7 separate regions of the Homo sapiens genome follow, and all the other regions are linked to region 6. The links come from fine-mapping of genetic effects on plasma protein levels. Region 6 holds a variant in brackets. A gene starts in each other region. All regions are shown on their reverse strands. Region 1 holds the start of CD300A (CD300a molecule). Region 2 holds the start of NELL1 (neural EGFL like 1). Region 3 holds the start of CPQ (carboxypeptidase Q). Region 4 holds the start of MAMDC2 (MAM domain containing 2). Region 5 holds the start of SDC1 (syndecan 1). Region 6 overlaps SLC39A8 (solute carrier family 39 member 8). Region 7 holds the start of SLITRK2 (SLIT and NTRK like family member 2).

What was found. PIP is the posterior inclusion probability: the model's chance that the variant is causal. The UK Biobank Pharma Proteomics Project read protein levels with antibody pairs (Olink). The fine-mapping took linkage between variants from a reference panel, not from the people measured, so its PIPs are less certain.
Region 1: CD300A starts here. The variant in region 6 is fine-mapped to the plasma level of the CD300A protein (UK Biobank, PIP above 0.99).
Region 2: NELL1 starts here. The variant in region 6 is fine-mapped to the plasma level of the NELL1 protein (UK Biobank, PIP above 0.99).
Region 3: it holds the start of CPQ, and the variant in region 6 is fine-mapped to the plasma level of the CPQ protein (UK Biobank, PIP above 0.99).
Region 4: it holds the start of MAMDC2, and the variant in region 6 is fine-mapped to the plasma level of the MAMDC2 protein (UK Biobank, PIP above 0.99).
Region 5: SDC1 starts here. The variant in region 6 is fine-mapped to the plasma level of the SDC1 protein (UK Biobank, PIP above 0.99).
Region 7: SLITRK2 starts here. The variant in region 6 is fine-mapped to the plasma level of the SLITRK2 protein (UK Biobank, PIP above 0.99).

What each region holds. Positions count from the first base shown.
Region 1 is chr17:74,463,972-74,468,373 of GRCh38, reverse strand. CD300A (CD300a molecule) reads right to left here and starts at 1,740. Exons shown (of 7, transcript NM_007261.4): 1 at 1,631-1,740. The coding sequence starts at 1,670. It overlaps LOC124904056 (a long non-coding RNA gene), which reads left to right and starts at 600. Exons shown (of 2, transcript XR_007065899.1): 1 at 600-824; 2 at 3,624-4,366. RefSeq lists an enhancer at 599-728 and silencers at 1,089-1,148, 1,189-1,248.
Region 2 is chr11:20,667,107-20,671,508 of GRCh38, reverse strand. It overlaps NELL1 (neural EGFL like 1), which reads right to left and starts at 1,923. Exons shown (of 20, transcript NM_006157.5): 1 at 1,731-1,923. The coding sequence starts at 1,785.
Region 3 is chr8:96,641,103-96,645,463 of GRCh38, reverse strand. It overlaps CPQ (carboxypeptidase Q), which reads right to left and starts at 222. Exons shown (of 8, transcript NM_016134.4): 1 at 62-222. RefSeq lists a silencer at 1-347.
Region 4 is chr9:70,041,627-70,046,028 of GRCh38, reverse strand. MAMDC2 (MAM domain containing 2) reads right to left here and starts at 2,181. Exons shown (of 14, transcript NM_153267.5): 1 at 1,798-2,181; 2 at 1,332-1,445. The coding sequence starts at 1,831. It overlaps LOC124902179 (a long non-coding RNA gene), which reads left to right and starts at 1,988. Exons shown (of 2, transcript XR_007061571.1): 1 at 1,988-2,075. RefSeq lists a silencer at 1,902-2,196.
Region 5 is chr2:20,221,500-20,225,499 of GRCh38, reverse strand. SDC1 (syndecan 1) reads left to right here and starts at 370. Exons shown (of 5, transcript NM_002997.5): 1 at 370-698. The coding sequence starts at 633. RefSeq lists silencers at 1-333, 394-813, 854-913, 934-1,393, 1,804-2,003 and enhancers at 1-402, 2,162-2,668, 2,669-3,176.
Region 6 is chr4:102,265,258-102,269,659 of GRCh38, reverse strand. SLC39A8 (solute carrier family 39 member 8) reads left to right here. Exons shown (of 9, transcript NM_001135146.2): 7 at 1,581-1,788; 8 at 1,986-2,170. Among named protein-coding and RNA genes, the nearest start is that of SLC39A8, 78 kb to the left of the region's middle. RefSeq lists an enhancer at 1,031-2,230. The variant G/A (reference allele first, on the strand shown) is at 2,108.
Region 7 is chrX:145,813,956-145,818,333 of GRCh38, reverse strand. It overlaps SLITRK2 (SLIT and NTRK like family member 2), which reads right to left and starts at 505. Exons shown (of 5, transcript NM_032539.5): 1 at 308-505.

The sequences.
Region 1 (4,402 bases), not on the chromosome of region 6:
GTGACGGAGGGAGACCCTGTCTCAAAAAAATAAAAATGTTGGCCAGGCTTGGTGGCTCACGCCTGCAATCCCAGCACTTTGGGAGGCCAAGGTGAGTGGATCACCTGAGGTTGGGAGTTTGAGACCAGCCTGACCAACATGGAGAAAGCCCATCTCTACTAAAAATACAAAATTAACCAGGCATGGTGGTACATGCCTGTAATCTCAGCTACTCGGGAGGCTGAGGCAGGAGAATCACTTGAACCTGGGAGGCGTAGGTTGCAGTGAGCCAAGATCGCGCCACTGCACTCCAGCCTGGGCAACAAGAGCAAAACTCCATCTCAAAAAATAAATAAATAAATAAATAAATAAATAAATAAATAAAAGTAAAAATGCTTTGTGAATAGTCATTGGTGGATCCCTTCTTCCTAATAATGAGAAGCTCTGGTCCTTTTTCCCTGAGTCAGCAACAAGGCAGGGACAACCACTACCACTATGTCCGCTGGGCCTCACTCCGGCTGTACCAGCCAATGAGTCAATGGGAGAAAGAGAAACAGATATTAGACAGGAACTGAAACCTTCCCATGCACACCGACCCTATGAAACAGAAGAACACCCAAGAGAATCGCAGGAGCACCTGTTATGGGAGGATGACCCGTTTCCAAGTCAAGACACCAAAAGTAATAACCTTCCCACAGACAAGTAGTTAGCAAATATAATTGCAGAAAACCTCCGATCTGTAAGGAAAGCAACCACAAAGACGTACAATACCCTAGGACTAGGCCTGAGGAGTCTGCACAGGAGCTGTCTGAGGAGAGCGGTGGACGTGACTGAAGGCACAGCAGGTGACTCTGCGGGAGGAATCCCTGCGCTTGGACAGGGAAGACTCAACTCCACGCTTCTCCCTAAAGAAGATCTCAGCGCTTCTCTGCCCGATCTTTTCCCTCCTCGCCCTCCCCACCACCTTTTCTGTCCCCTCTGTCCCATATCCCCTTCTTGGAGAGGACTGACCCCTGGTTCTCAGGCCCATGCAGGGGCTAACCCCAGCCAAGGCTGCCTCGGGACTTCCCCCTGCTCAGGCCCCAGCCGCTGGGCTGCCCTGGTTAAATCTCCGCATTCCAGAGACTATCGATCTGCTCCCCACCCCGACCCTATCTCCCTCACCGCCCCACCCCCTCCTCCGTACCCTGCACCTAGTGAGGCCGGCATCTCCCCCACCCTCCCCACACCCCCCTCCTCCATACCCTGCACCCAGTGAGCCCGGCATCTCCCCCACCCTCACCACATGCCCCTCGCAGTCAGTGGCTGCCACTCTCCACCCACCCTGACACATCCTGCCTCTCGTCCCCCTTCCTGTAAGAATTCAACTGAAAACCTAAAAGGTCCCTTTTCTGCACCCACCCCTTATCACTTGCCCCGCTGTGGTTCAGCCAAGGTACGTGGGTGCAGAGCCGGGAGAGGCCCTGGCTCCTTCCTCTCCCAGGGGTGTGGACCTTCATCTGTCCATCTTATGTGGTAGACAGAGCGCACCGCATTCTGCGTTCTGCACGGAGTCCAGACTCGGGGCGTCTCGTGTGATACCTGCCCTGCGGCCCTGCCCCTCGCACCCTCCCTCCCTGCCGCAGACTTTCCCGGGAAGGGAAACTCTCACCTGGGACCCAGAGAAGCAACAGAGCCCAAGGCAGCCACATGGTCCCTTCCCCAGCACAGGCGGCACTTGCAGCAGCTCCAGGCCCTACCTGGACCCGAGGGGAAAGTCACGCCTCCAAGGCCCCGACTTCTGCTTTTCTTGGTGCCGCGCTGCTTCCTTGTTCAGCTTCTTTTGGTTCTATTCCTGGAGCCGGTCAGAAAATGCAGGAAGCTGGTGAGCCCCGACTAAGACTCCCTAGAAACGGCACGTCCTCCTTAACGCTGGTTGAGGCTGCAGGTTCTTCGGCTATTTCTAGTGATGAGACCTCTCCCTGTAGTGACTCCGTAGCTTGCAGGACTGATCCCCGACTCTCACTTCCCCGGGTCTCCTCCTAGTGGAAGGCCCAATAACTCCTCCCTCCTTTCCTTGTGGTCAAGGTGGGCAACCCTGGGGGTGGGACCCGCTGAGCTGGCTCCTCTCACCCTCGGTGGTGCCCACGAGGAGGCTGCCAGGGGGAACTCCCCTTTCCTGAGTCCCTTCCCTGAGTCCCTTGGAGGTCCAGGCCTGGGCTTCGGGGCTGAGGGAAGGGGAGTTGTCATCGTGACTCCAGAGTCCCTGAATGGTTCCTAGTCTTGGAAATGTGTCCTCAACTTGACACAGAGGTCCTCCGGCCATGCCTTCCTTTCTATATAGCCCCATTGGAGCCAACTCGGGGCTGGGCACAGAGCAGGGACTCAGCGAGCCTGCAAGGACCCCTTTCCTGATCCACACAGAGTGCAGACTCTAAACACACACACGCTCACACTCACATACACACTCACACCCACACACACTCACCCACACACATTCACAAACACACACTCACATACACACACTCACACTCACCCACACACATTCACAAACACACACTCACATACACACTCACACAAACACACTCACCCACACACATTCACAAACACACTCACATACACACTCACACAAACACTCACCCACACACATTCACAAACACACACAAACACACTCAGCCACACACATTCACAAACACACAAACACACCCACACATTCACAAACACACTCGCATACACACAAACACACATTCACACACCCACACACATTCACAAACACACACTCACATACACACTCACATGCACACATATTCACACACACCCACACATTCACACTCACACATACACACAAACACATTCACAAACAAACACGTTCATGCACATACACTCACATATACACACTCACACACACATTCACAAACACTTTCACAAACACATACACACACGTACACACAAACACATACACACATTCACAAACACGTTCATGCACATACACACACACACACAAACATTCACACACCCACACACAAACACACACAAACACACTCACACTCTCACATACACACACACTCACCCAAACACACTCACATACACACACATTCACACACACCCACACACATACACTCACACAAACACATTCACACACCCACACACATTCACAAACACACACATACGCACACATTCACAAACACACGTTCATGCACACACACATATACACACACACAAACACACAGGCACTCTCACCCACACACATTCACAAACTCACATTCACACACAAACACAAATTCACACACACTGATACAAACACACATACACATTCACACATTGAAACACTCAAATTCACACAACGCACTTACATATACAACTGAAATACACTCACACATTCACACACAAACTCACACACTGACACATTCACACACAGTGACATACACTCACACACACACAGTCTCACACACGTGCCTTGAGTAGGTGCCCCAGCTTGCACAGAATGACCAGGTGGGCACAGGAAATGCCACTCCTAATGTGTAATGCGTCACCTGGGAGCTTGCAGTCCCCAAGCTCAGAGTGTCCACCCACATGGAGCCCTGTGCCAGCTATGGGATCCCAAGAATATCCTTCCCTCTGGCCCTTTTTGGAATTTGTCACTTTCCTCTTCCTTCTGAACACAGGGGCGCCTTGCCCACGAAGGTGTCAGGAAGCCAAGGAGACCTATGGGCTCTGCTGCTGGAAGATTCAATGACAAAGCCTGGTGGACATTGTGGAAATTTTCATGATGATGCAGTCATAGATTAACTAAACCTCATTAAGATCCAAGACACTTCGGGCCGGGCGCGGTGGCTCACTCCTGTAATCCCAGCACTTTGGGAGGCCGAGGCAGGCGGATCACGAGGTCAGGAGTTCGAGACCAGCCGGGCCAACGTGGCAAAACCCTGTCTCTACTAAAAATAAAAAAAATGTGGCGGGCACCTGCAATCCCAGCTACTCGGGAGGCTGAGGCAGGAGAATCGCTTGAACTCGAGAGGCAAAGGTTGCGGTGAGCCAAGATCGTGCCATTGCACCCCAGCCTGGGTGACAAGAGCAAGACTCCGTCTCAAAAAAAAAAAGATCCAAGACACTTTGGATCATGACACTGTTGAGCTGAACATAAAAATGCAGGAGATGTGTCATATTCGGTGGCTTATGTGGCCTGATCATTGCAAAGTTTCTCAAAAATTATTTTTTGATTCAACCATGACCAAAAAGGCGCTGCTGCAATCTTGAACGTCCAGGCCAGACAGAGAAGCAGAAGGCTAAGTTCTGGCGTGGCTTGTCCACTTACCACCGAATGAACTTGAGCAAAGCCTGTGGCTTCTGTAAAACGTCAATAATGACAGCTCCTCTGTGGGAATAAATATTATTATGATTATACAAATACTGAAATGTCAGTGTTCCTTAACATCCTCAGGTC
Region 2 (4,402 bases), not on the chromosome of region 6:
CGTTCCATTCCGTGATAAGGGTACTTTGGCGACTTTTCAAAGGAGTAATGAGAACAAAGGATTTAGGCATATTCCGTAGTGATGTGCACTTAGGGATGTGAACTCACTAACGGGTTGCCCCCTCCCTACCTAGCTTCTTCCTGTCTGCGGTTCCTCTGTAAGATGTCCACGAGCACCAGACTCTCGCGCTCAGAGCCAGTAGCCCACGCTCTGCACTAGTCTTGCCTGTCCTGATCTTCCTGGGGTGCGCGCACTCCTTCAGCGTGTCCTGGTTTTAAAAGACTAACCCATCCGGATGGGCCTGAACTCAAGAAGCAACTATTCTAAGCTAGACTGAGCCTTGGCGTCTCCGCAGCCTGGGAAGCTCGGATAGAGGTAAGGAACGGAATGGGAGGTTTCTTTTGTCCCTTGAGAAATCCATATTCAACATTCTTAACCAGACGAAAGCCGCTGCCTGCTCAGTCCTGGGGAAGTGGGAAGGGCCCTCTGAAAGCTCCTAGACGCTAGATCTTCCAGCGGGCTAACTGCCAAAGAGGGGCGCCTGGGCGCAAGCGGAGGGAACTTTTGAGCCAACCAAGTGCAGACGCCCCTTCTTAGCCCTCTCCAGATGAACTTGCTCTTTGGCCTAGAGAGAAGGCCACGCCTCTAAAGAAGGAAATAAGGATGGTAAAGGGGGGAGAATAAAGGGAAAGGGAATGACCACACAGATTCTGGGGTGCAGCGCGTACGGAGGATGGCTGGGTAGGATTGCAAACCTCCGACACTCCCCCCAGTTGACAGGCCCTATTTTTGCCAATTTCCTACATCTCACCCCACCTCACCTCACCCCAGTCTCCCCGCATCTACTACTAGCTCTTTGAAGAAGGCGGCTGCAAGCCAGTCTCCGAACCCCAGGGGACTTTTGGGCAAGGGAGCCGGTGGAAGCAGAAGGAAGAAGATGCGCTGAGAGTCCTCACAACTGCGTCTCCGGAGGCAGAACGAAGTGGGGACTTCAGACAATCAAGCGTCATCCTTGCTCCCCCCTCCCCACACGGAACCCTGCGATTATGGCAAGAGAAAACTGGTTTGAGCTTGAGAAAATTTCCCCAGATTGTCTCCACTGCTCTATTTCCCTCAGATAATTGTTCGCCCAGCCCTTGGGAGCAAAGACAGGCGGAGGAGAATACTCCTGGAGTTCTCCTGGGTAGTCAGGAAGGCACAGGAGGAGATCGCGGGATCCCAGGGTTCTCCCGCAGCTCTCTGCCCTCGCCGCACCGCGCCCTCCCGGGCCCCGGCCGCGCCCGCCAGCCGGAAGCGCTCCCTCTGCGGGTGCGACTCCCGCAGCTACCCCTTCCCAGCCTGGCGGGGGTCGGCGAGAGTGGTTTCCACAGCACCTTACAAGTTCGGGAACTCGGGGCACGCGGGCCCGCCCTGCTGCGGGTTTCGACTCCCTGGGACGGAAAGCCGGTTACTAGCAGCAAGAGGGTGCGCCTACTCGGCCGCGCCCCTCACTCCTGCGCCCCTGAGGCCGGGTCCCCTGAGAAGGGGCACTCAACGGGGACATCTTCAAGCCCGTGAGTCCCTATTTTCACCCTGTCACTCCGAGCAGGGCAAAGAGATCCCAGGAACCGGTCCACGCTACCGCCGTTCCCCAGACCAGCGCAAAGCTCGGCTCCAGGTCTCCCCACGCCGCCGTGGTCTGTGGGCACCCCCATTTCCCGGATCCCTCTAACCGCCACAGTCATGCTTACCTGTCCTGGCAGTGCACACACAGAACCACACAACTAAAATCAAATCCATCGGCATCGCTCTCGAGGGTCCCCGCCTAGCAGGGGGCACCGAAGCTAGGTGGAAGCAAATGAGCCTGGATCCTGAGGCGCGCCTGGCTTGGAGCCGCCAAACTTGCTAGCGGGCGGCGGGGGAGGTGGCTCGGCAGCGCCGGGTGCTGCGCTCGCATATGCGCCCGGGAAGGCAGCCCCGGCCGCCCCGCCCCCAGCCCGCCCCCCACCGCTGGCGCGGCGGCGGCGGCGTGGGGCTCGGGGCCCGGCCCCCCGCTGCGGCTGCGTTCGTCTGGGAGCCCGGGCAGGAGCGCGGGGTTTGGCTACTGTGGCTTGTTGCGCTCCCCACTGGGGGCCGATTCCGTTCGCCTCCTTCGCCCGCAGAACTGCGAGGATCTGGACTGCAGGCGCCGCAGCCGCTATCACCCGGAGCACCGAAGTCGGAGTCCCAGGACCTGCGGCCGAAACGAGAGAGCGGGAGGCGCACGGCGCCCCCACGGCTTCACGCGCTCCAGCCCCTCCGAGCCGCAGTCGCCAATGTTGCCCTCTTTACTTCCGCACCGCGGTGGGGGCTGCCGAAGTTGCCACAGTTCATCCCCGCCGAGTCGAAAAGCCGCCGAGCCCTCGCGGGTGGGTATTTTTCCTCGGGGGAACCCAGACCGAGGCGGCGCCACCGAGCGCGCACGGACCCCCTCGGAAAACAATTACTCGGGATTCGCTCTGTCAACTGGGTGGGGAGGGACCTGAGGGGGATGATGGCTGAGTCCCTGCTCACCGCCTGTACCTTCTGTCTCCTCTCTCCTGTTGAACCCCTATGACTGAGTACTCTCTTTGTGGGTGCAGGAAGAGGGCGCTGAGGTGGGGGTGCAGAAAAGGGGTCCTCGAGGCGGAGCGAGCTGTGGTTGGGGTTTGGGAAGTCTATTTGCAAACCTTCTCATTCTGCAGGGCAGATGCTGCCACATAGGGGTAATTCCTAACCATCTTTTTTTCTTTCTTGCGTGATTTTCTTAATGGTATTATCAAAAGCCCACTCTTCTTTCATAGTCACATTTTGGCCCCATGTGCAATTCCTCCGGGACCTCCACCTTCTTTTCCCTCTCCCACCACAACATTCTCTGGAGAGAAAAGCTGGGCTGGGCTTTGTTTTCTACTTGCCGGCAAGAAGAGAATGGGTCCTCTCCCCTCTATGCGACCCTTTCAGGACCTGACCTTCCCTATGAAGATCCCCCAAATTTAAGACTTCTGTCCCACTTCCTATTTGTCCTACTAACACCTAGGAACGTTATTTATAACTGGATATGTAGAGTCATGAAATCTGAAATGACAGCCTCTGATTTATACCAAATGAACTCCACTTAGCTTGCTCAGTCTTCCCACTCTCTCTGAAGCCCCCGCTCCCCCTCACCAGCAGTACTCCTTTGATATTCACAACAGGGATCCCAGAGGAGTCCAAGGAAACCTCAGAACAGCCGTCCCTCGTTTCCTGGAAACCAATTCCAACGTTTCAGAATCCTCTTCACTAATAAGAACGTGCCCTTCTCACTTGCACCCACTTTCACTTCCTATATCCTTAACCCCTACACAACTTTGACCCCAGGAGCCCCAGTGAAGTTCACCAAATCAGCGCAGCTTATTAAGAGAGAAGGCTTTACTAGCATGCTGTTCTGGTCTCTGCCCTATTTTTCTGGATATTTCTGTGTGCAAGCCACTGTCCCATTTGGCCCTTTATGTTGTGGTCCTTTGGCAGATGAAAAAGAAAGTGAACAAGCAGGTAAATTCCAGCTCAAGAAGTCTACTGCACAATCCAGAAGTTGAGCTGAATGATTAAGAGGTAAACTGATGTCAGCTGACTCCAACTCAGATTCGGCTAAGACCCAAAGGAAATCTGTCTGCCTTGACTCTGTATTTTCACTAACAGAGTCCACGTGTTTTTCCTTCCACCCGGAGCGTGTTGCATTTAAAGCTAACATTAAAATCACACATCTTGAAGAGAATAGGATTTCCCAAGTCTTGTTGGGCCTTGTGGACAAGGACACCATACACCATGTTGTATTATAAGAGCCATTTCCTGTCTCTCCTCTGCAGTCTTTAAGTACACCTCAGCAGGAACAGCCTTGAGTTGCTTTGGACTGTTGTTTCCAAGGCCCTTTTATTGATTTCAGAAAGCCCAGAATCCTTAAAAGTACAGTGACCCCAGCAAGGGGAAAAGGTGGTCTGGGTAAGATCTTCAGAGCTCTCTATCTTTAAAGTCTCTGTGTAATTAGCTGGTCCTGTGGGATGGGACTTTTAGCTTGTTCCATTAAAAAATAAAGCAAGACATATGTTCTGTCATAGCTTTGCAGCATAACATCCATTAACAGTAACAAGAGTTAATCTCAACAAGGTCATAAATCTTTTCTAGATAACTAAGTACTGCAATCTCCTCCTATAAGTGCAACCCTTGAGTGGGGATTTTGAGTGTGTAGGTCTGTTAAGCTAAGGTGACCTTCATAGAATGGGCCCAGCAAGTTTCTCTAGTGACAATGAAGGGACACATGGCTATGTATGTACTTGGTGGTGGAATGTTACAGTGAGACCTGTGTTCGGTGGAAGCCACACTGAAACATCTTACCTGATGCCAGATCCCAAGTCCACCCTCCCCTTCA
Region 3 (4,361 bases), not on the chromosome of region 6:
GTAGGAGCCAAGGCCTCGGCCCAGCCGCCCGCGGGCACTGCCAGTTCGGCTGCAAACACACCTGATAGGGCGGCTCTGACGGCGGCGACGGAGGCGGCTCCCAGGACTAAGCTCGCGGCCTAGCCTTACGGTGGCGGCGGCCACACCCCTGACTGGGCTGGGGCCCTCCGCGCCGCCCCGTGACTGCAGCCCTGCTTGCCGGCCAGGCCGCGGGGCCGAGAGGCGGGGCAAAGACCTGACTCGGGAAGCCGGGGCGGGCGCCGGGTTCGGGCTGGGGGCCACCTCCGGAACGCCTGGGGGGTTCTCACTCGCCCTCCAAGGGCGACCTCAGGGCCACAGATCGGCCGGAAGGCTTCTCAGCTTCTGGGCTGTGGCTCCTGTTAGAAAATTGAGTGTCGCCCTGGGTCCCGAGCCCCTAGGCCTGACTCCTTCGTGCAGGGGCGTCGCCTTCAGACTGGGTGGTGCGCAGGCCAGGGCCGCGTGCTTTTCAGAAGCGCAGCCTCAGGCGAGGCGGGCGGCAGGGGCCTGAGAAGGCTCATGGCTTGGCAGAAGGGTCCTGTGCTTCAGTGGGTGCCCGTGCAGGTGGAGAAGGACGGGGCTGCGAAGCTGAAAGGAAAACGTGAAAGGTTTTTGTGTGTCTCTGAGCCTGAGTAAAGGCCATGCTTTCTGAGCTGTCAAACGCCTCCCAAAGGGAAGAGATTATTAAACCGTTTTCCCACCCTGCCAGGTGTAGGATTGTTAGGCGGTGATGATGGAAGGCAGAGATGACCCGAACTGAGAGATCAGAAAAAGCGTTTTCTCTTTCGTTTGTGCCTGAATTATATGAGGGTGCCCAAGAAGAAAGGAGACTCATCTGATTACCCGGTGTGGCTTATCTCAACAAGTCACACGCATTCTGGTCACAGAGTATGTGCTCAGTGTTTTCAATGCTTTATGTTTTGATAAGTGCAAATTCCTTTGTTTAACGAAACTCTTATCAAATACAAACAGTTATCTTTGTGAAACACTGAGCAGTTCCAGTCTCTCCTCTTAACTAAAAAAACCAAACAGAACTTTTAATTAGAAAAGAAAAGAAAGAATAAGCACATGCCTACTGGGAAAAAAAAAATACCATAAAATGTGCAAAGTCCACTCACCTTCGGTTAACAGTCCCTCTAAACCTTACTAGTCCTGTTGCCCACTGAAACAAGTGTGAACTCTGAGGCATTGGAGGGTCCACATAAACATGGCCCTGGCCCACCTTTCCCGAATCATCTCTCGGATGCCATATCTAACCCCACTGAATTACTTTTTTCTCAAACTATCAAGGGTAAAAGACAAGTTTTTATTATTTCCAATCTGACATGGACCATTATTTCTGTAAAATACAAATCAAAACCTGCTAGCAAATAAGAAAAGAGACAAAAACTACAAGCCCAGTTTTTATTACAAGTGTACAATGAGTATGCCAAAAAGTATAAAATTAGTTTTTCAATTATTGGTTGTTGTTGTTGTTTTTATTTCTAAATGCTTACTCACAATTTCTATACTTACCTGTTCATGGAGCAGTAAAAAGCTGTTCACTGACTGGCGGTGGTTGGATTACCGTTTAAGTGGCACTGACTTGCTGTTCTTTAATTATGTCAAATGCTTTTCAACTTCTGGGCCTTTTCTCATGTTTAATGTGAACGAAGTTCTTTCCCACTCAAGTTTCAACTCGTAATAACAATAAAAGCTTCACATTTATTGAGTGCCTTGTGCTAAGATTTTTGATGCATTAACTGTGAATTCTTATTTGTCCTATGAGCTACCTATTATTATCATTATTATTTCCCCCCACTGTACAGATAAGGAGATGGAGGATTAGAGAGGTCAAGTCACAAAACCAGTGAGGTACAAAGTCAGCATTAAACTGAGCTGGCCTGATTCTGGAGCCCAAGCAATCAACCAACATGCTGGGCCCCTCTCTGTGAAACCTCCCCCATTTGCTTTCAAGTTGAAATTAATCACTCTTGCTTACACCTCTACTCTAACATTTTTTCCCGTTGGTTTTCATTCATGTCAGCTTCCCACGCTAGGCTTTAAGCTTCTGAGTACAGTGAATTTGTCTGCTCACACTAATCACAGGAAGCAGAGCTCATTCGCATCTTTGCATTACCACTATCTTTTATGCTTACTTCATGATATGTTTTAATTATTTATTCTTGTCAGCATCCTCTACTAAACCATACAATGTTCAGAGTTATCTTACCAAAGATGCTTTTATTTATTTAATTGAATAAGCATTTCTATAGCATGTATAATGAGCCAGGTACTATTCCAAGAATTTTAAAACCTCGCAAATAGACCTATAGATATTATTTTATCCCTCTTTAAACTGTGAGGAAACTAAGGCATAGAGAGGTTGCAGTAAGTTGCAGGACCAGAATTCCAAACCAAGCAACCTGCCTGGCTCCAGAATCTATTTCTGAGCCACCATGCTATGTTGATTTTCCACAATACCATGTGTTCTTCCTACTTAGAACACTTCACTGCAGGGAGATCAATCCATAATGGCCAATTAGAAGCCCCTGCCCGCAGCACTCAGGGAGGAATGAGAAGGGGCAAGTGAATTCAGTACCTTCAACTGAAATATCCAGGTTCTCTCATTGGGACTGACTAGGCAAACCACCGGCCCATGGAGAATGAAGAAAAGTTGGGCAGGGTGGGGAGCCCACCTCGGAGCAGCACAGAGCCAAAGGAACCTCCACCCTCAGCCAAGGGAAGTGGTGAGTGATTGTGCAACCCAGGAAACCATGCTTCTCCCATGAATCTTTGCAACCTGTGGATCAAGAGACCCCCTCATGACTCCACACCACCAGGGCCTTGAGTCTGATACACAGAGCTGTGTGTTGTCTTGACAGAGCAGCCACTCAGGCACATACAAAGAGGCCCAGAAGTTTTACATACTCTGGCCACAATCATCAGCAAGGCAGGAAATCCATCTGTAGGAAGGGGGCTGAATCCAGGGAGCCAAGCAATACCATTCTTCAGGCCCCACTTACATGACACCCCACAAGTTAAGACCCACCAGCTTGGAATCCCAGCCAGCCAATGGCAGTGGATAGGAGTCTGCCTGAGACAGGTTTGAGTTCCCAGCAGGTGGGGCAGCTGCCGTCTCTGTGATTCAGCCGACTCAGCTGCTGCAGCCTCCTGGATGTGGAGAATACAGACGGTCTAAACTAGGAAGGGTTCCCTCTGCTACAATGCAGCACACCTGCCCTACCAAAAAGCAGCCAGACTGCTTCTGTAAGCGGGACCCCAAGTCATTCCTCCTCGCTAGAGAGGACCTCCTTAAGCCCCTCCAGCAACTGTTTTATGAACAGAGCTCTGATCTCTCCCTGGGACAGAGCTCCTGGAGGGAGGGGAGGCCATCATCTCTGCAGTTCAGTAGACTCAGCCATTCAAGCCTGCCAGCTGTGGATAATACAGATGGACCATACAAGGAAGGGTCCCCCACAATGTAGCACAGCTGCCTTGCCAAATTGCAGCCAGACTGCTTCTTTAAGTGGGACCCCAATCCATTCCTCCTCATGGGTGGGTCCTCCCTGCAGGAGCTTCAGTCACTCCAGCCAGGGCGCTATGGAGAGAGCTCTGATATCTCCCTGGGACAGGTTGCCTTGGAGAGGGACAACCACCATCTTTATGGTTCAGTGGACTCAGCTGATCCAGCCTACCAGCTGTGGAGAATACAGGTGGTCCAGACTATGAGGGCCCCACCCACCCCCACTCCCAGTACAGCACACCTGCTCTACAAAAAGCAGCCAGACTACTTCTTTGGGTGGGTCCCTAATCCCGTTCCTCCTGACTGGGTGAAACCTCCCAATGGGGGTCTCTAACCACCTGCTGCAGGTGTATGAGGGCTGGCAACAGATCAGAAACCACCCAAGATGAAGCTTCCAGAGGAAGAAGCTGGCTGCCATCTTTGCTGTTTTGTGGCCTTCACTAGTGATACCTCCAGATACAGGAAAAAGTGAGGCAACTGGGGTCTGGAGCGGATCTCCAGCAAACTGCAGCAGTCAAGTGGCCTGACTGTTAAGAGAAAAACAAACAAAACAACAACAACACCATCAACAAAAAAGACCCCACAAAAACCTCATTCAAAGTCAACAACCTCAAAGATTAAAGGTAGATAAGCCCACAAAGATGAGAAAGAATCAACGCAAAAATGCTGAAAACCCAAAAAGCCAGAGTGCGTTTTCTCCTGCAAATGACCACAACCCCTCCCCAGCAAGGGCACAGAACTGGACTGAGGCTGAGATGGCTGAACTGACAGAAGTATGCTTCAGAAGGTGGGTAACAACGAACTTTCCTGAGCTAAAGAAGCATGTTGTAACCCAATG
Region 4 (4,402 bases), not on the chromosome of region 6:
GGAAAGGGTGAGTGGCAAGATTACAGAGACTTTCCTAAAGCCATCAGCAAGATAGGAATCCCTCGAATAATAAATCAAGAATTGCTTTTTCCCAGCCACCCCTAAGTAGACTGTAGTAGTCAAGACTTGGCAATTGTTGGATAAAGATGGAGATTACTACTGAACCAGTTCCTTCCTGTTTCTTCCTAACTAGACACTCAGAGTTAGCCACTCAGTGACACTGTGATATGGACTAGCCATTTGAATATTCTATGGCTGAGATTCCTTCCTCTGTAAAACGGGTCCAACATCACCTACCTGTGAGGGTCAGAGAAGCTAATGTATGCAGAACCCTGAGTAGAAGCCTGGGGCAGAGTGAGCTGTGGTGACAGTTCATACATCTAACCAGGGGTTCCGGGCTCCATCCTCCCCCAGGGAGCGAGGTGGGAGGATCTGCGGCCTGAGGACAATTGAGTGGGGAAGGAGGTGAGCTGGTTTCATCTAGGGTACCATGTTTTTTAAAGAAGGCTATTTTCCAATCCAAATAGTCTGTGGGCATCAGGCTTCACTGGTGGTGACAAAAGAGAGAGAAAGGAAAGAAGGGACACCCAGTGCCGCCTGCCATTGGGTACTGAGAACCACACTTTAAAACAAAAAACAAAAAAAACTATATAAAGGCAAGATGACACTTCAGAAGACCCCACATTTAAACTTTGTCCTTGGGACCCAAACAGTATAGAGTAGTAAGACAATGACCACCAGTGAGACAGGGACCCCAGGCATTTGGCAGTGTACATGGTTTCTTTTGTCCAGGGCAGGATTACAAACAGGAGTGTGAGGATGAAATCATGCAGCAAAAAACACTGTCAGGGTCAAGGCAGACGTGATGTCTTAGCACTGACGTCCCATCACAGAATTGTGGAACCATTTCTGCAAAGCTGAAGGAGAACTAGTCCCATGCAACTTTTCCCAACTCACAGACATGTCTCCTGAGGACCAGAAAGGTTGCTGGCCTGCAGAGGCACACAGCTGGTGTGCCTGCAGAGGCCCACAGCGGAGAACAATCATTAGCTGTGCTCCGTTTCTCCCTTCCATTAAGGAGTGCTGGGGTGAGACGCAAATTTTAAGCTTCTACCCATAGGCCAGGTAAACAAAGGGCGGCCTCCCGCCCGCCCCGTTCCTGCCTCGGCCATCCCTTGCAGCACAGCTGAGGGCTTGAAGGAGGATCCATGACTCACACTTTTCTTGCCGCGGAGAATTAACTCCAAGATAACATTACCCATGTGGGAAAAAAAAGCAAGCCATCAAGGAAGAAAGTTCACTTCGCGCCCCTCTCCACCGAGCCTCCTTACCTTCCTCATTTAAAATCCACGGCAGAGAGGCCAACACGGAGTCAAAGCCGCAAGTGCTCTCTTCAAAGGCACAGGACCCAGCGGGCAGGTCGAGGGCACCGGCGAGCTGCAGGGCTGCGGGCACAAAGCGAGTTTCAGTTCGAGCTCCACCCAGGAGCCTTTGCACCAACTCGGGGAGCCCCAGGGGGACTACCTGGTGAAAGTGGGGGAAAGACGAGCGGGAGGGGGCGGGAGAGGGATGCAGTACCTGTCCCCCAGCATCCCCGGGCGCCTCCACTGAGCGACCCCACGCCCACCCCCACCCCCACCCCAGGCTTGGCCAGGGGAGGGAGTTAGCGGCTGCGGAGGATCAGGAGGCGCCCTCGGATGGCCCAGCCCAGCACGGTGAGCCGGACCCCCGGGGGCAGCAGGAGCGGGGGCGAGTCGTCAGAGCGCCCCCGGGGTTGTCCCGGGGTCCAGGCCTTACCTTGCAACGCCAGGAGGACGCCCCTTAACAGCATGGTCGCGTTTCAGGGAGGATGACTAGGAAGGGGTGCAAGTTGCCAGCCCGCTGGGACTGGCTGCTCCTAGTGAAAGGGATCGTGGGAGGCGGGGGCGCCGGGGACCCAAGGAGGGAGAAGTCGAGAGGCAAAGCTTGCGCTCTGAGCTGCCCAACTTTGCAGAGCGGCTCCCGGAGCCGAGCGGTATGCTGGAAGGTGCTCGAATGGAGAGCGCCAGCGCCCCGGCGCTGAGCAGCAGCCTCAGGTCAGACCGCGGCCCAGCTGGTCCTGGGCGACGATGGGGCTGGACAGGGAGGAGACAACTGCACACTTTGAAAGGCCAGCCACGACTGGCTGGGAGAGGAGAGGTCGGCCCGCAGTGCCTTCGCTCAGGATTTTAAAGCTTGGGACCAGAGCCCTTGCAGACACTTGGAAGGGGCAGGCCTTCCAGGAGTCCCTCCGCTGGGTTGGGACCCGAGGCTCCCGCCCCGCCCAGCCGCGGTGGGAACTCGCTTATTTCTGGGGACAGCTTCCCTGCATCTGGCATGTCAGTCCCGCAGGGCTGGCCCTAATTTTAACTTCTTCTCCCCAGAATGAAAGAGGGTGGAATTCTCCAAGGACAGCCTGGAGGAAAATTTGGAAACGGTTGGGTGGAATAAGCTTTATATCTAAGGAGTTTCAGCGTTTACGGTCCAGCAATGCTAACCCTGGAATACCACCCCCACTTTTTTTAGCCGGTGGAATGTCTGGCATGCCTGGTGCTCAGCATTCCCTCCGTCCGGTGAAATGGGGGCATTCCTTCTCTCCAAAGAGCCATGATAGATTGATTAATGGGAGGCTTTACACTGGGAGGGGGTTGTTGGGGAGGGAGTTACTTCTGAGGAAGCTGTTTGCTTTGGGCACTAAGTGGGTCTCCAACAATATTCTTTTCTTGTAAAGAGTTCTTCTTCCTCCCCTCCTCTTCCTCCTCCTCCTCCTCCTTTCTCCCATTTATAATTTTGTGCAGGCAATTTTGTGAGGAGGGCAGTGGTTTTAAAACCTGAGGGTGCATCAGAATCTGCTGAAGGGCCTCACCCTCCGTTTCCGATCCAGTAGCTCTGGAGTGGGCCTGAGAGGCTGCACGTCCCTAATAAGTTTCCAGAGGCTGCTGCTGCCGCAGCGGGTTTGGAACAATACTTTGAGGACCACTGGCCTAACAAACTCCAGTTGAGCCATCAGTTCAACCTGCTCCCATGCCTTCACCTGGCTTCCAGACCGCTGGGTTTCCTGGTCTTTCATTGGCCGCCGCTTCTCGGCCTCTTTGCGTTACCTCTGTAACCCCTTAACATGAGAGTGCCTCCAAGTTCTTCCCTGTCACTCCTGTTTCTTTCTCTATCCAGCCCCTCAATGCTGTCCTCAAGTCTCATAGTTTTAGATACCAATGATAGCCTGATAACTCCCACATTTATATTTCTAACCCAGACTACTCACTAACGCCAGACTCTTCGATCTCATTGCCACCTCAACATTTCCAATCGGATGCTTCAGAGCTATTTCATACTTAACAGGTCCCAACATGAAGGCTGCATATTTCTTGCCAAACCTGCCCGTCCCCTGTGTCTTCCTCATCTCAGTAAAAGAACTATTTTCCTCCAGTTGTTCAGGAGAGAAAACTTGGAGGCATCTTCAGCTCATCCGTTCCTGTCAGACATTGCCAATTTCTATCAGCTCAGGATTCAAAACACAGCAGATGCTGACCATGCTCTGTGCCCATGGTGGTGATGCCTTGGTTGGTCCAAGCTGCCCTTGCCATCAACCTGGGATACCGCAGTGGCCTCCTGACCACGGTCTCCCTTCATTTTCTGCCCTGCCCACCCTACTCTATTCTGAACACACTAGTCAGGGTTATCCTTTTAATACAGAAATTGGGCCATGTCACTCCTTAGCTCAAGACCCAACAAGTTCCCAAGTCATTTAGTAAAGTCCAAAGTCTTCACGATGACCAACCAGGCCCTATAGGACCTGCTCCACCCTTTTCTTTCTTTTCTTGCTTTCCTTCTTTTTCTTTTTTTGAGACAGAATCCCACCCTGTCACCAGGCTGGAGTGCGATCTCTGTTCACTGCAAAGTCCACCTCCCAGGTTCAAGCAATTCTCCTGCCTCAGCCTCCCAAGTAGCTGGGATTACAGGCGTGTGACACCACGCCCAGCTAATTTTTGTATTTTTAGTAGAGACAGGGTTTCACCATGTTGGCCAGGATGGTTTCAATCTCTTGACATCATGATCCACCTGCCTCGGACTCCCGAAGTGCTGCGATTACAGGCGTGAGCCACTGCACCCAGCCCCACCCTCTTATTTCTCTGACTTCAATCACCCTGCTTACTCTTCTCTAGCCACACAGACCTCTTGGCTGATCCTCAAACACAGTCCAGCTATCCTTTCAGAATTTTGCACTGGCTGTTCTTTCTGCTCAAAATGCTCTTCCACAAAGAGCCACACAACTCACCGCCTAATGAGGTCTTCACTCAGATGTCACTTTCAGTATTAGAAAATTAGTAACCTTCTCCCTAATAAGGAAAATATATCTGGAATCCTTTTTTAAAGGTAGGAACAA
Region 5 (4,000 bases), not on the chromosome of region 6:
GGAGCGCGCTCCGCGTCCACGCCCAGAGGGCGCTGCACACTCGCGCCCGAGGACTGCCTGCCCCCCTTCAGCCCCTCTCCCGGGCTGCGCCTCCGCACTCCGGGCCCGGGCAGAAGGGGGTGCGCCTCGGCCCCACCACCCAGGGAGCAGCCGAGCTGAAAGGCCGGGAACCGCGGCTTGCGGGGACCACAGCTCCCGAAAGCGACGTTCGGCCACCGGAGGAGCGGGAGCCAAGCAGGCAAGAACCTTAGGAGCGGGCCGGGGGTGGGGCGTTCCGAAGGGGCCGGGAGGGGTGGCTGGGGGGCGGGGTCCTGGGGGGTGTGGACTGGGGCTGGCCGGGAGACCTGGCGGAGCTGGGGGTGGGGGGCCAGTTTTTGCAACGGCTAAGGAAGGGCCTGTGGGTTTATTATAAGGCGGAGCTCGGCGGGAGAGGTGCGGGCCGAATCCGAGCCGAGCGGAGAGGAATCCGGCAGTAGAGAGCGGACTCCAGCCGGCGGACCCTGCAGCCCTCGCCTGGGACAGCGGCGCGCTGGGCAGGCGCCCAAGAGAGCATCGAGCAGCGGAACCCGCGAAGCCGGCCCGCAGCCGCGACCCGCGCAGCCTGCCGCTCTCCCGCCGCCGGTCCGGGCAGCATGAGGCGCGCGGCGCTCTGGCTCTGGCTGTGCGCGCTGGCGCTGAGCCTGCAGCCGGCCCTGCCGGTGAGTGCGGCCGGCGGCCAGGCGGGGAGGCGGCGGGAAGCCGGGACTGGTCACCCGCGGATGCCGGCGGGTGCACGTGGAGGGGGAGGGGGAGCGAAGACTTCCCTTCTTCCCGCGCTAGCCCAGCGGGTCCCGGGACGGTGAGCCCCGAGACCAGGGCTCCAGCCCCAATTTCCTCCGCTGTCGGTGGGTGCCGCACCGGTCCCGCGCTGGGGAGGGTGGGGGGCCGGGGCCCCGCGCTCAATTATGTAAAACGTCTCCACATCTGTCGGAGCCCGCCAGCCCACAGCGGCGCCCGGGGTCGCCCGTTCCCACCCTCCTCGCCCCGGCCACCGCGGCGGCCGGGCCCCCGTCGGTGACCCGGGGGGATGCAGTGACCGCGGCCACAACGCCCCCCCTGCAGACCCTAATTCAAACCAGACCCGCGGGCTTGCGCCCCAGCGCCGCCGAGCCCGGGCGCCCCGCCCCTTGCGCCAGGGCAAGTTTGGGCGCAGCGCGGCCGGCGCGGGAGCGGGAGGCGGCCGCGTTGGCCCGGGGAGCCGGGCCAGGGCTGCGTGGGGGGCGCGGGCGAGCGTCTGCAGGGCCCTCGGGCTTGCCGTGGGCGGCTCGAGGTGAGCTGAGCCGGCCCGGCAGCGGGAGGTTCCGGGAAGTTGGCCTCGGAACGCTGGAGACCCGGAGGAGCCCAACTTCTGGGCTGCTGAAGTTGAGCTGGCCCCGGAGGGCGCGTTCCCGTGCCGGGCACGGCCGAGGCGCAGGCGCCTTCCACGCGAGGGGACCCGGGAATGGCCTCCCGCTCCCCGGCTCGGCTTTGTGCTGAAGCCGCGCGGAGGGAAGGCGGGTCCCTTGGCCCGCCCAGTGCAGCTGGGAGAAAAGAGGGGCAGATGTGGAGCTCGGGGCTGTAAGAGGCCTTTGGGTGGGATGCAGCATCCACCTTCAGCGGGGCTGACGCTCCACTAAAGAGGGACGTGGCCGACAAAGAGCAGCCTGAGGGTCCCCAGAAAGTGGCTCTCCCGCCCCGGCCACCGGCCGCTAGCCCGCCTTCCCCAATGGGGGCGCTTTGTTCTCGGCCCCTGTAACCCTTTCCTGGGAACAGCCCCGTAACGCCGGCCTTGACGGGGGCTGGGACCTGGGCCGCAGCCAGGTGTCAGCGCGGGCCGCCCGGTGCCCGAGTCTGCCGCCCGAGTTCGCCTCCCCAGCCCCCGCGCCCGGTGCTGGCGTCCCGGGGTCCCTCCTGCGGGCCGGCTCGGCCATCCCCAGGGATGCAGAGGGGAGGTGCGGAGCCAGGGGCGCTTCCCCTTCCGGAAGTGGCGGTGTCTCGCCACTACATCTGGACAGTTCGACTTCCCCAGCTCTGGCAAAGGGAGGCACGTGGGCAGGGAAGGGGCGGGGGCGGGGTGGGCACTCGGGTTCTCCACTGCTAATGTGGCATCTGGACAAGTCTCAGCAGCGCTGACCCTCCGTAAGCGTTGCCTCGTGTAGTAGCTGCCAGTTATTGAGCGCTTTGGTTTTTTTTTTCTTTACAGAGTCTGTCTCATGGGAGATGAGGTAGGGACAGTCGTTTCTGAGACCGATGTGTAAAGCGCCCTCCCTGCTTCCCAGGTGACTCGTGCTTCCAGACATTTTCCGGTCCAGGAGAGGTCCCTGTGCCTATTGAACTGTGAATGGGCTGGACTGTGAGGGGTATCTGGGAGCACGGGGAGGGCCATGATTTCCGAGCTGGGTCTCATGCACTCCTGGCTTTCAGGTCCAAGAAGCTGCTCTCTAGGGTGGTGGTTTCTGTGGAACTGAGACTGTGCTTGGAGTCTTCGCTCCGAGTTTGGAGAAGAGAATGGAGCTGGGTGCCTTACCTCCCTGGACCGCTGGGCATCACCTCACTGCCCCATTCTCGCACATGATGGGGCCTCAGCAGGGGCGGCTGAAGTTGGGTCCTCCACCTATTTCCGGCTGGATTTAGGAGGGCTGCTGGTTCCCTTGCCTGCCTGGGGTAAAGCAGACATTCCAGAGCCCTGGGATCCCACCGCACCCGTTAATGCTGGGGAGGCAGGTGGAGTTTGGGCTTCCCCGTGAACTGCCTTTCCTGGAGTTTTCTGTGGGCTGGGGCAGATGCTGCAGTGTGAGGCATTATTTCTTGCCCAGAAACTTGGACATAGGGCCCAGGAGGCAGGAGAGTCTCAAAAGGGGAAAGGAGGGAGACTCCCTGGAGCTGCAGGGAGGGAAGGCTTCCTGGAGGAGGTGCTTGAGCTGAGCCTGAAAGCCCCACCTGAGCTTTGGGGTCAGACTCTGGCTTGAAGCTTAGGTGTTCTTTTTGCTTTTTCTGATCTTACAAAGATTAGTTTGTTTTCTCTTTCCCAGTTCTGCCCTCTTCCTCTTACAGTGAATGTCCATGTTAGGTTAAAGGTGGGGGCATGCACTGCCTTCCCAAAGCTCTGATACCCCTTTCCTAAAAGAAATCAGGCAGCTGGGATTTGCTTTAAGATGGGAGAAGGTATTTGCAAGTGGCAGAGATCTGACCCTCTCTGAAAGTTCACTCTGGCCCCAGTGGGAAGCAGGTCAGAAACCCCCTGGGGACCAGGGAAGCAAGGAGTGACTGAATGGGTGAGGGGAGGCTGCTAGGAGAGGAGGTTGCTCAAAACCACTCCCAAGAGACTAAAACAGGTTTGTCTAAAAAGGTTTCTCTCTCTCTTTCTCTCTGTGTGTGTGTGTGTGTGTGTGTTTACTGTGGTCTTTTGTTTCTGCCATGTAAGAAAAATGGCTTGTTCTGGAATAGTTATTTGCTATTTTTCATTCTTTCTCTCTTCTCTTTCTTGAAAGGCATAAAATCCCTTTTGCCCTAATTATGGGGGCTAGTAGAGACATTTTCCCACAGCCTGGCAGAGAGGGTATGGGGGGAGGCACTAGCTGCCTCCGCTCAGGCTCAGAGCCTTCTAGAAGTGATGTCATCCCTGGCTTCAGCTCTACAGGGAGGGTGGAGCGGTTTAAGTCTCTACCTGTGGCTCATGATGGGTTCCAGTAAAACCTCATTAACACACATTGGTAGGGAGACAGTAAGAAAGGAGAGAGCCTGGAAAGAATTAATGAAAAGCTTGACTTCTGCAGTTTTTTAGAGGAATCTTTTCTGTTGCAGCAGAATTTTGGATTCCTGAAATCCCTTGGGAATGAGGTGTCCTGTGTATTCATATTTTTTCATCAAGCTAAGAATCCCTATTACCCTCGAGTATTCTTACTCTGGGCATGACTCTCTGAAGTATTTATTTCCCTTCCTTTATCAACCAAAAAATGCTAGGCATGATTTAATCTCTGCC
Region 6 (4,402 bases):
TTTTTGTATCTCTGGGTAAGTTTACCAACCTTTTTGTGCTTTAATTTCCTCAACTATAAAATGATGGTAACAGTTGTACTTTCCTCATAGAATTGTTCCAAATGAATTCGGTATTTGAAGTGCTTAGAACAGTGCCTAGCACATTATAAATGCTATGTGCCTTTGCTGTTACTATTTCTACTACGACCACATTGGTGATGACAATGATGATGAATCCTATTACTAACAGTTTCCCATTCATTTCATATTAATTAAAAAAATATTTGCTCCAAATGCTTTTATCTGTGCCTACAAACAAACAAAAATCCAAAGGTGCAGATTTGCCACTAACGAAATAGTAAAGAGATGTATTGCAGGATCTAAGGCTGATTCTGAAAGTGTTGGTCCCCAAAGTGTTTGGAGTGGTGAAGTGATATTGGAGTAACTGTAAAACCTCTTAGATGGTTGCTCTGAAGTAAGCCCCTCTCTGTTGGATATATATTGCATGTTTTTTTTTTAATGTATCCATATATATTATGACTTGTTTCTCCAATGTAAATACACTTCTTGAAGACAGAAGCTGTGTTTTCCATTTCTGTGTATTTCCTATAGCATTCAACAGAGTGTTTTACAAATTTCAGAAGTTCAATAAATGTAATGATTAGCTGCTTAGGTAGAGGTGAGAGGAGGAGAATTAGGAATAAAATGTTCTCCAGTTAATTGCAAAGTGCTTTTGTACTTAAAAATGAATTTGCATTTTATCTTTTTCTACAACTTCTGGAAAGTGTTTTAGTTGGCATTTGTCATTTGATTTTGTACAATTTTGTAAATTTTCTGGAAATCTAAATTCCTACAAAGAGTCCATCACAGGATTTTCTATTTTTTAATTGTTTCTACATGAAAGGAAGTGTTAGTGTAAAGGCTAGCCTGTTCCATTTACACTTCATGCAATTTGTTAAGAAAATAATTAAGCTTTGGAGCTGGTAGAGACCATATTGTTACAGCCTAAACCCTCCACAGGGTACCTGGAACAGAATGGAAACTCAATAAGTTGTTGATAAATAAATGAATCATTTAGTACAATGTCTTCATTTCACAGTTGAAGGAACTCTGTGATAACTTGCTCCCTGTCACATGGTGGCATAGGAGGGGTTAGAACAAATGTTGCTGATGTCATTCATCATGCTCTAGTTGTGGATTTCACATTTAAATTGTAACATAAAAAAGACTTTAAGTTTAGTCTTTGAATAACTTCCTTCATTTTAAATCTTGTGTATAAATAAATTTCTTAGGTTAATATCTGCTACATTTTAGAAAGGCAGTAGGAAGAAGTTTATACAAGTCAAAAGAATTGTTTTAAAGGGAAAGTAAAGGAAAATATCTGTTAGTGGCTTATTCGAGGTGTGTCAGTTGATGAATTTCCTTTCTCTCAACCATAAGTTTTCTTTGCTCTGTTATATATTATTAGGGTTTCCTAGTTACTCTAAAAGACTTTCTGTTGGAACAATTTGTTTTTCTCAAGCACAACCCATCTCCAACTTGTCTGTATTTCTGAGACTTTCAAGAAATGTTGGTTATCATTTTAATTGATTTTCTGCTAGGATGGAAAAAAAGAGCCAAGTTCATGTACCTGTTTGAAGGGGCCCAAACTGTCAGAAATAGGGACGATTGCCTGGATGATAACGCTCTGCGATGCCCTCCACAATTTCATCGATGGCCTGGCGATTGGGGCTTCCTGCACCTTGTCTCTCCTTCAGGGACTCAGTACTTCCATAGCAATCCTATGTGAGGAGTTTCCCCACGAGTTAGGTAAGGAGCTCTGTTCATATTGTAAAAGTCTGCTTACTTCTTGATTTCAGTGGAATGAGACTTTTCAGGTGACATGCTCTTAAAATCCTTCTGATGCACTAAAATGAAGACCTTGTTGGACATTGATGATTATCTTTGATATCATCCAGAAATAAAAAAAAAACTATTCACTTGATATTTTCTTCTTCTTCTTCTAGGAGACTTTGTGATCCTACTCAATGCAGGGATGAGCACTCGACAAGCCTTGCTATTCAACTTCCTTTCTGCATGTTCCTGCTATGTTGGGCTAGCTTTTGGCATTTTGGTGGGCAACAATTTC[G/A]CTCCAAATATTATATTTGCACTTGCTGGAGGCATGTTCCTCTATATTTCTCTGGCAGATATGGTAAGAAGCTTAAAATTTGTATTTTCTTTTAATTTAAAATTTGGAAATGAGTATCTGGATTATAAGTTAACTAAGGGTGGCCTTCTGCTTTCCGCAGTGTGGAAGGCCTTTCTGTTGTAATTCAGAACAATCCCATTTCAACAGATCATTCTACTTGAGTAGTTTACACTAATAGTAATTTGAAACTGATCCTCACTGGTTCTTTAAAACATAATCGTATTGTTTGAAGGTGAAATGATTTGTTTTTGCTGAAATAGAGATATTTTCCTCTATCTCTATTCCCCTTGTGGTTGGTACATCTTGTCTTATGTTATAGTATGTCCCTATAGGACTTTTTCTCCTTTTTCTCCCTCTTTTGTGTCTATGCCACATTTGGAAGAGGAATAACTTATTAGAGTAAATAGCATTTTGTTATTTCAAAGTTCTAAACAGTGACAGCTTTTTGGGTTAAACTAAAACTGGTACACTAAAATTGGTAAAATTTTGACAATAGTTATTTGACATAGTATATATTTATATCTGTTCAATGTCTGTGTCTTTGTATCTGTGTGTATGTGTGTGTTTGTGCTCAAAAGAGCGTGCATGGCCGGGTGCGGTGGCTCATGCCTGTAATCCCAGCACTTTGGGAGGCCGAGGCGGGCGGATCACAAGGTCAAGAGATCTAGACCATCCTGGCCAACATGGTGAAACCCTGTCTCTACTGAAACTACAAAAATTAGCCGGGCGTGGTGGCGGGCGCCTGTAATCCCAGCTACTCGGGAGTCTGAGGCAGGAGAATTGCTTGAACCCGGGAGGCAGAGGTTGCTGTGAGCCGAGATTGTGCCACTGTACTCCAGCCTGACGACAGAACGAGACTCCATCTAAAAAAAAAAGAGTGTGCATGTGTGTGTGTAAGAGAGAGAATATCCTGTGCATTTTAAAATAAATCATGGAAATCTTTCTATAAAATGATAATATGGTAGTGTATGAAAATCAAGGACTATTTCTTTTGCATTTGGAACTGGATGTATTACATACATAATTTAATAATTTGAGTTTTTTATTTGCATTCTTACCTCCAAATTATATTTGTCTAGCTCTGTTCGTTGTTCTCTGCAGACCCTCAGAAGAGCAAGGATTTCATCTCTTAGAACCAATGCTACATTTATAACTTTTGTCACAAAATTAATGTCTCATGCTATCTTATAGTCATTTTACTTTCTGATATAAGAATGGAATCTTACTAGAGTTGTTCAGTTTAAAGAAATAATACTAAGAAATAATACTCATCCTGGAGTGAGCAAAATAGGCACAGTTCAAGGGGCTTTTCCATTCATGGGGCTTTTCCTCTAGAAAGAGGGGATCCTTAAATTAAACAACAAAAAATCACACAGATGACTAAATAATTACAAATAATAAAAAATGCTATGAAATAAGAGAGAAAGTAGAATATATGATGAGAGATGATAATAAAGGAATCTAGAATAAACTAGGATTAGCTAGCAAAAGTGTTTTAGCAAGATATAAGGTAAAACGTGAAGGATTTAGTCCACTGAAAAATTAGAGAAATACAAGTTCTGGTACAGGTGATGGTAGATGTGAAGATTTTGCTGGGTAAACTTGAGGTCATGAAAGAATGGGTTGGGTGAAGCATAGAGAGCAGGTAATGGAAAAGGAGAAAGAGAACATAAAATGAGGTAAATTCCATCCCACTGATTGATTCAGTTGGAGAAAAATACTACTTCAGTACTTTTACTCTTGTTGATGCCTGAAAGAACTAGATATTCCTATTAAGCTATCAGTACTAAAACCTTTAAACATCCAAAGTAAATGATCATACCACCCCTCCCAGCATTCTATTACAGGAGCACCTTGTTTTATTGCACATTGCTTTGATGCACTTTGTAAATGCTAGGTTTTTTGCACATTGAAAGTTTTTGGCAACCCTGCCTCAAGCAAATCTGTCAGTGCCATTTTTTGAATAGCATGGGCTTATTTCCTGTCTCTGTCACATTTTGTTAATTTTTAAACGATTTCAAACCTTTTCATTATTATTATAATATCTGTTATAGTGATTTGTGATCAGTGATCTATGATGTTACTATTATGTTTTGGGACGCCATGAACCACATTCGTATAAAATGGTGAACTTAATTGACAAATGTTGTGTGTGTTTTCTCCCTGCACCCCTGATCAGCCATCCTTCCATCTCCCTCTCCTTGGGCCTCCCTATTCCTTGACACCCAACAATGT
Region 7 (4,378 bases), not on the chromosome of region 6:
GCACTGCAGGCCGACCGGAGGCTTCTAGCTCGCGCCGGGTGCGTGGGCCCTCCCTGGCCGCCTGTGCCACCCCGCTGCGCGAGGCGCGGAGCCCGACCACGCCCGCGCGGACGGTCCCGGGGTGAGGAATCTCCAGTGGGGATTGAGGGTAGAGGGCGGCCGCCAGCGAGCTGCCCTCCGCGGATGGCGCCCAGCCTCCCCACGCTGGTGCCCCTCGCAAGGAGAGGTGGCCGGGAAAGGCAACGGACTGAGGAAAGCCGGCTCACTGGCCGCGTCGCCACCGCGTCCCTGAGTGCTCAGAACTTACCGAGCGAGCGCGCCGCCCAGATCTTTTCCCGGAGGCGCCCGCAGCATCTGCGACTCGGGGAGGCAAAGGAGCCGGCACCGCCTCGGACTGGCGCAGCCCAGGAGCGAGAGCACCGCGGGGAGCGCGGGCGGCGCCCCCAGGGCAGGCAGATCCCCACCGAGCAGCTAGCCAACGGGCAACGCTTCTTGCAGGAAGGAGGGAGGGAGGCGAGAGGGAGGAGGGAAGTAAAGCGGGAGGGAGGAGAGGGGAAGAAGGGAGGGAGGAGGGAGGAGGGAGGGAGGAGGGAGGAGGGAGTGAGGAGGGAGGAGGGAGGGAGGAGGGAGGGAGGGATCGCGTCCCCCCTCTCCCTCACTTATCAATCACCCCACAGATCAAATATCCGGGCTGTGCACCCAGGACGGGGATGTAAGAGCCCACAAAGGAGCCGCTGCTCCATTTCTCTGACAAGCGCTGCGGAGCACTGCTCACGCCTCTCGGTCCCTCTTGCCTGGAACTCTGCCCAGCCCTTGCGGCTTCCACCCTGGGCTGCAGCTCGGGCTCGGTCAAGTGAAATAAGAATGGCACACGGTCGGTACCATGTCCAAGGGGAGACTAAGACTACTGGGTGGAAGTTAACGACAAGTGAAAGAGCAGTCAGCCATCCGAGCTGGACACCCTCCGGGACAGCTGCCTCCCCTAACTAGTAAGCGCCCAGTCTTTGGGAGTTCGCAGGCAGATATTTAAGAACCTCCTACGAGGATCGTAAACAAGGACTTTCAACATAAGATAGAGCTGAACTTGAGTTGTGCAAGTGTGTTAACAAAGCAAGCCCTTAGCAGCGTTCCAGTGCCCATTTTGATTCCCTTTATTCTTCACGACGACGTTGCCTGGATCTTCTAGAGCGTGATTTTTGCCATCCTCCCTTCCCTTTTCTCCTTTCTTCTTCCTCTTATTAGTAGTCCAGGTGGTTGTGATTCTATTAAAGGAAGGCGCTCTGTGAAAAGAGTCAGTGTAGTTCAAGAGGGAGGTGCGGTTTTTGCCAAGAGCATTGCGTTTCCCCTCAAGACTTGCTTTCTCTAGGGCCTCTCCTCTACTCTTCCAGAGTATTCGAGATAAAGTTGCAGTTTGATAAATTTATGCCAGGAGTAGGGAGTTCATTTGATGACACTAAGTCATTTTCCCCTCCATCCTGTAGGAGAACGTCATTAATTCAAGTCGTTGCCACCCCCTATCCTTTTCATGCCCGCTAGAGTCTGCAAAACCCCAAATCCTTCTTACTGTCGAAAAGCGTGATGGTGGAGAGCAGACGGGGAGGCGAGGAGAGAGGTGCAAAATTAGACGCAAAATTACCTCTCCAGCTAGTGGATCTGCATTGGAATTTGTCTGTTTCCATATTTCCCATGCCTTTCAACTCGTTCTCACAGCACTGACAACCACCTTTTTCTTGTCCTTCCCGTGGGAATCTTTTGTGCTTCTCCTGTCCTCTCTTCTTGGCTTTCTTTCATAATGGTTTTCTAAGGAGATTATGCTGGGCTTTTTAAAAAGAAAACTACTGGCAATCTTATATTATGAAGATGTACAGAGTTTGCTTTAATAATAGTCGGAAGAATTATAATCGTATCTTCGGAGTTGTAAGGGTCATTACTGTTCCTTTTATTTCATTCTTGAGAAAGCCTTTTTGAAATCTTCCTACCATTCAGATAAGCAACTTCGGAATAACATAGTTCTCACATAAGCACGTGGGCAGTGTATGTACGGTTATATATCCAGAAGCATTGCTCTTCTTTTTACAATATCTGTATTAGTGTAAACATCCAATGTGCTGTTTGCTACAGACTAAAAGCAGTGCACTGAGCACATCATATTATTAACTAAATGAGGTCAGTTAATACTGTTACTTCTGTCTTTACCGTATTTCTGACTGTGTCATCTTTTCATGTCGCTTTTAGTAGATGTTATAAACAACTGCAAAACACAGAGCTAAGAGGCCATTCCAATACAGAAATAATGAGACAGTCATGCTGAAAAACTCAGACAGTTTACTAAGAAGGGTGATGTGTCTGTAGCCAAAGGGAACATACAAAATAAGCAAAAACTTCTATACAGAGTAGAGAAGGAACATGGCATTAATGATGAAAAGTGATACTTTATTTAGATCCAGTAGTAACATGTAATAGATGGCATGCATCAATTTTAATTAGCCTTGTAAGCAAGTCTAACCTGTTCACCAGCCTTCGAAAAGCATTTAGCAGCCTGCCTTTCCACATGGGACCACACTGATAGTAAGACAAAATTAAAAAGAGCAGACTTTTCTTTTTGTCAGCATAAAATTTTCAAGTAGGTGGATAGCTGTGCTTTGAATGCACAGACACGAAAATTGATGAGCAATATAAAACTTTCTGAGAGGGTTTTGCATAGACAGTTATAATGGAGGAGAGTTTGAAGTCTGTGAAAAATTTAAATATGCCAATTTATTTGAAAGCTGCTTTATGCTGAATTTTCTAAAAGCTTCTGTGTTAGAGGAAAATTTCCAAATAGAATTGAATACTAGAGACACCATATTAATGTACTTCTGTTCATTAATAAAAATCACATTATTCTTCTTTATACTAGCACTGTAAATGTATCTTTATATCCATGTGCTGTTTTCTTTTTGAAAAACTTTTATTTTAGGTTCAGGTGTACGTGTGCAAGTTTGTTATATAGGTAAATTGCATGTGGTGGGGGTTTGGTTTACTGTAAGCTACTTTCTATTGTGAAGTTCGTGTTACTAAACAACATAGAGATCCCGATTGGAAAACTAGTGGAAAAACAGAGAAATAAAACTAAATCTTGCCTGGGTTTTTATAATTTCATTCTAAGGTTAGAAGAAAACCAGAAATTTCACCTGCGATGAGTGAGATAAAAAGCGCATATGTTTCCAGGATGATGTAAAGGATGTCCTATTACTGTGTAGTACGTAATTTACCTGAGAATGTTGCTTTTTCAACTTCTTCACACCTATCCAGAACTAGAAAGCTTTAAAACATATAAAAGAAGACAAAATGTGCTGCATTTTCAGTGAACATAGTTTCTTTCCAACCAAAGGTTTCAAAGAAGAGTGCCACAGAACAAATTCCTAAATAAAGAAACGCAACAAAGCGGACATGCCCTTAATATTAGTAATTATAGTTTACAGGATATTGTAGACTTTTGTTCCTGATGTTATTGAAAAGGTGGATATTTTTCAATTCAATTCAATTATTTGGATTATTTGGCAGGCATTTTGGCCTGATTGAAATAGTGCTGGGCCAAGACCCAGGGCAGTTTTTCTTTTAATCAAATACATATCCAAGCCCTTGGAGCCCAATGACCTGGGTTCAAATTCCACCCGTGCTACTTTCTCACAATGGGACAAAAACAGCATTACACCAATTTCAGTTCCCCATGTGTAAAACTGGCACCTGCTATGTGGAGTCAGTAAGGATGGGATGTATACAGAACTCTTGAAAATTGAACGGTGGTACATGTATGTGCAAATAAATCTTAAACTAAAAAAATTTTTAACTCACTTCTTAAAATAAATAAGTTATACAAAATATTTTATATCTGTTTTCTATGTTTCTCATGACAATCCTCAACAGGCCAGTATGATTAGCCAGACTTTACAAAAGAGGAAAGTGAGACTCAGAAAATTTAAGTAACTTACCCTTACTCCCATTCTTGGTGAAATGGTTGATTTTAGTCAGAAACCAACATCTTAATTTAAGTTGGATAACAGAATTAGCATTAGAAAAAATATTTATGATTCTAGTTGGAGCCATGTAATGTCAAACATTTAAAATAACTTCAAAAAAATTCCATCTTTCATTTTACAGATGTTTTCAAATAGTTACATATATGTATACATCAGGGCTCAAACTCAACACTGTTGATATATTTGGTCAAATGATTATTTGTTGTGGGGGCTGCCCTATGCAATGTAGAAGGATTAGCAGCGTCACTGGCTTTTGTGTGTGTGTGTAATGTGCATATGTATACTATATATACATACGTGTAATTATATAAATGTAATAAGTAATATAACAATATATAATGAAATATTATTCTATT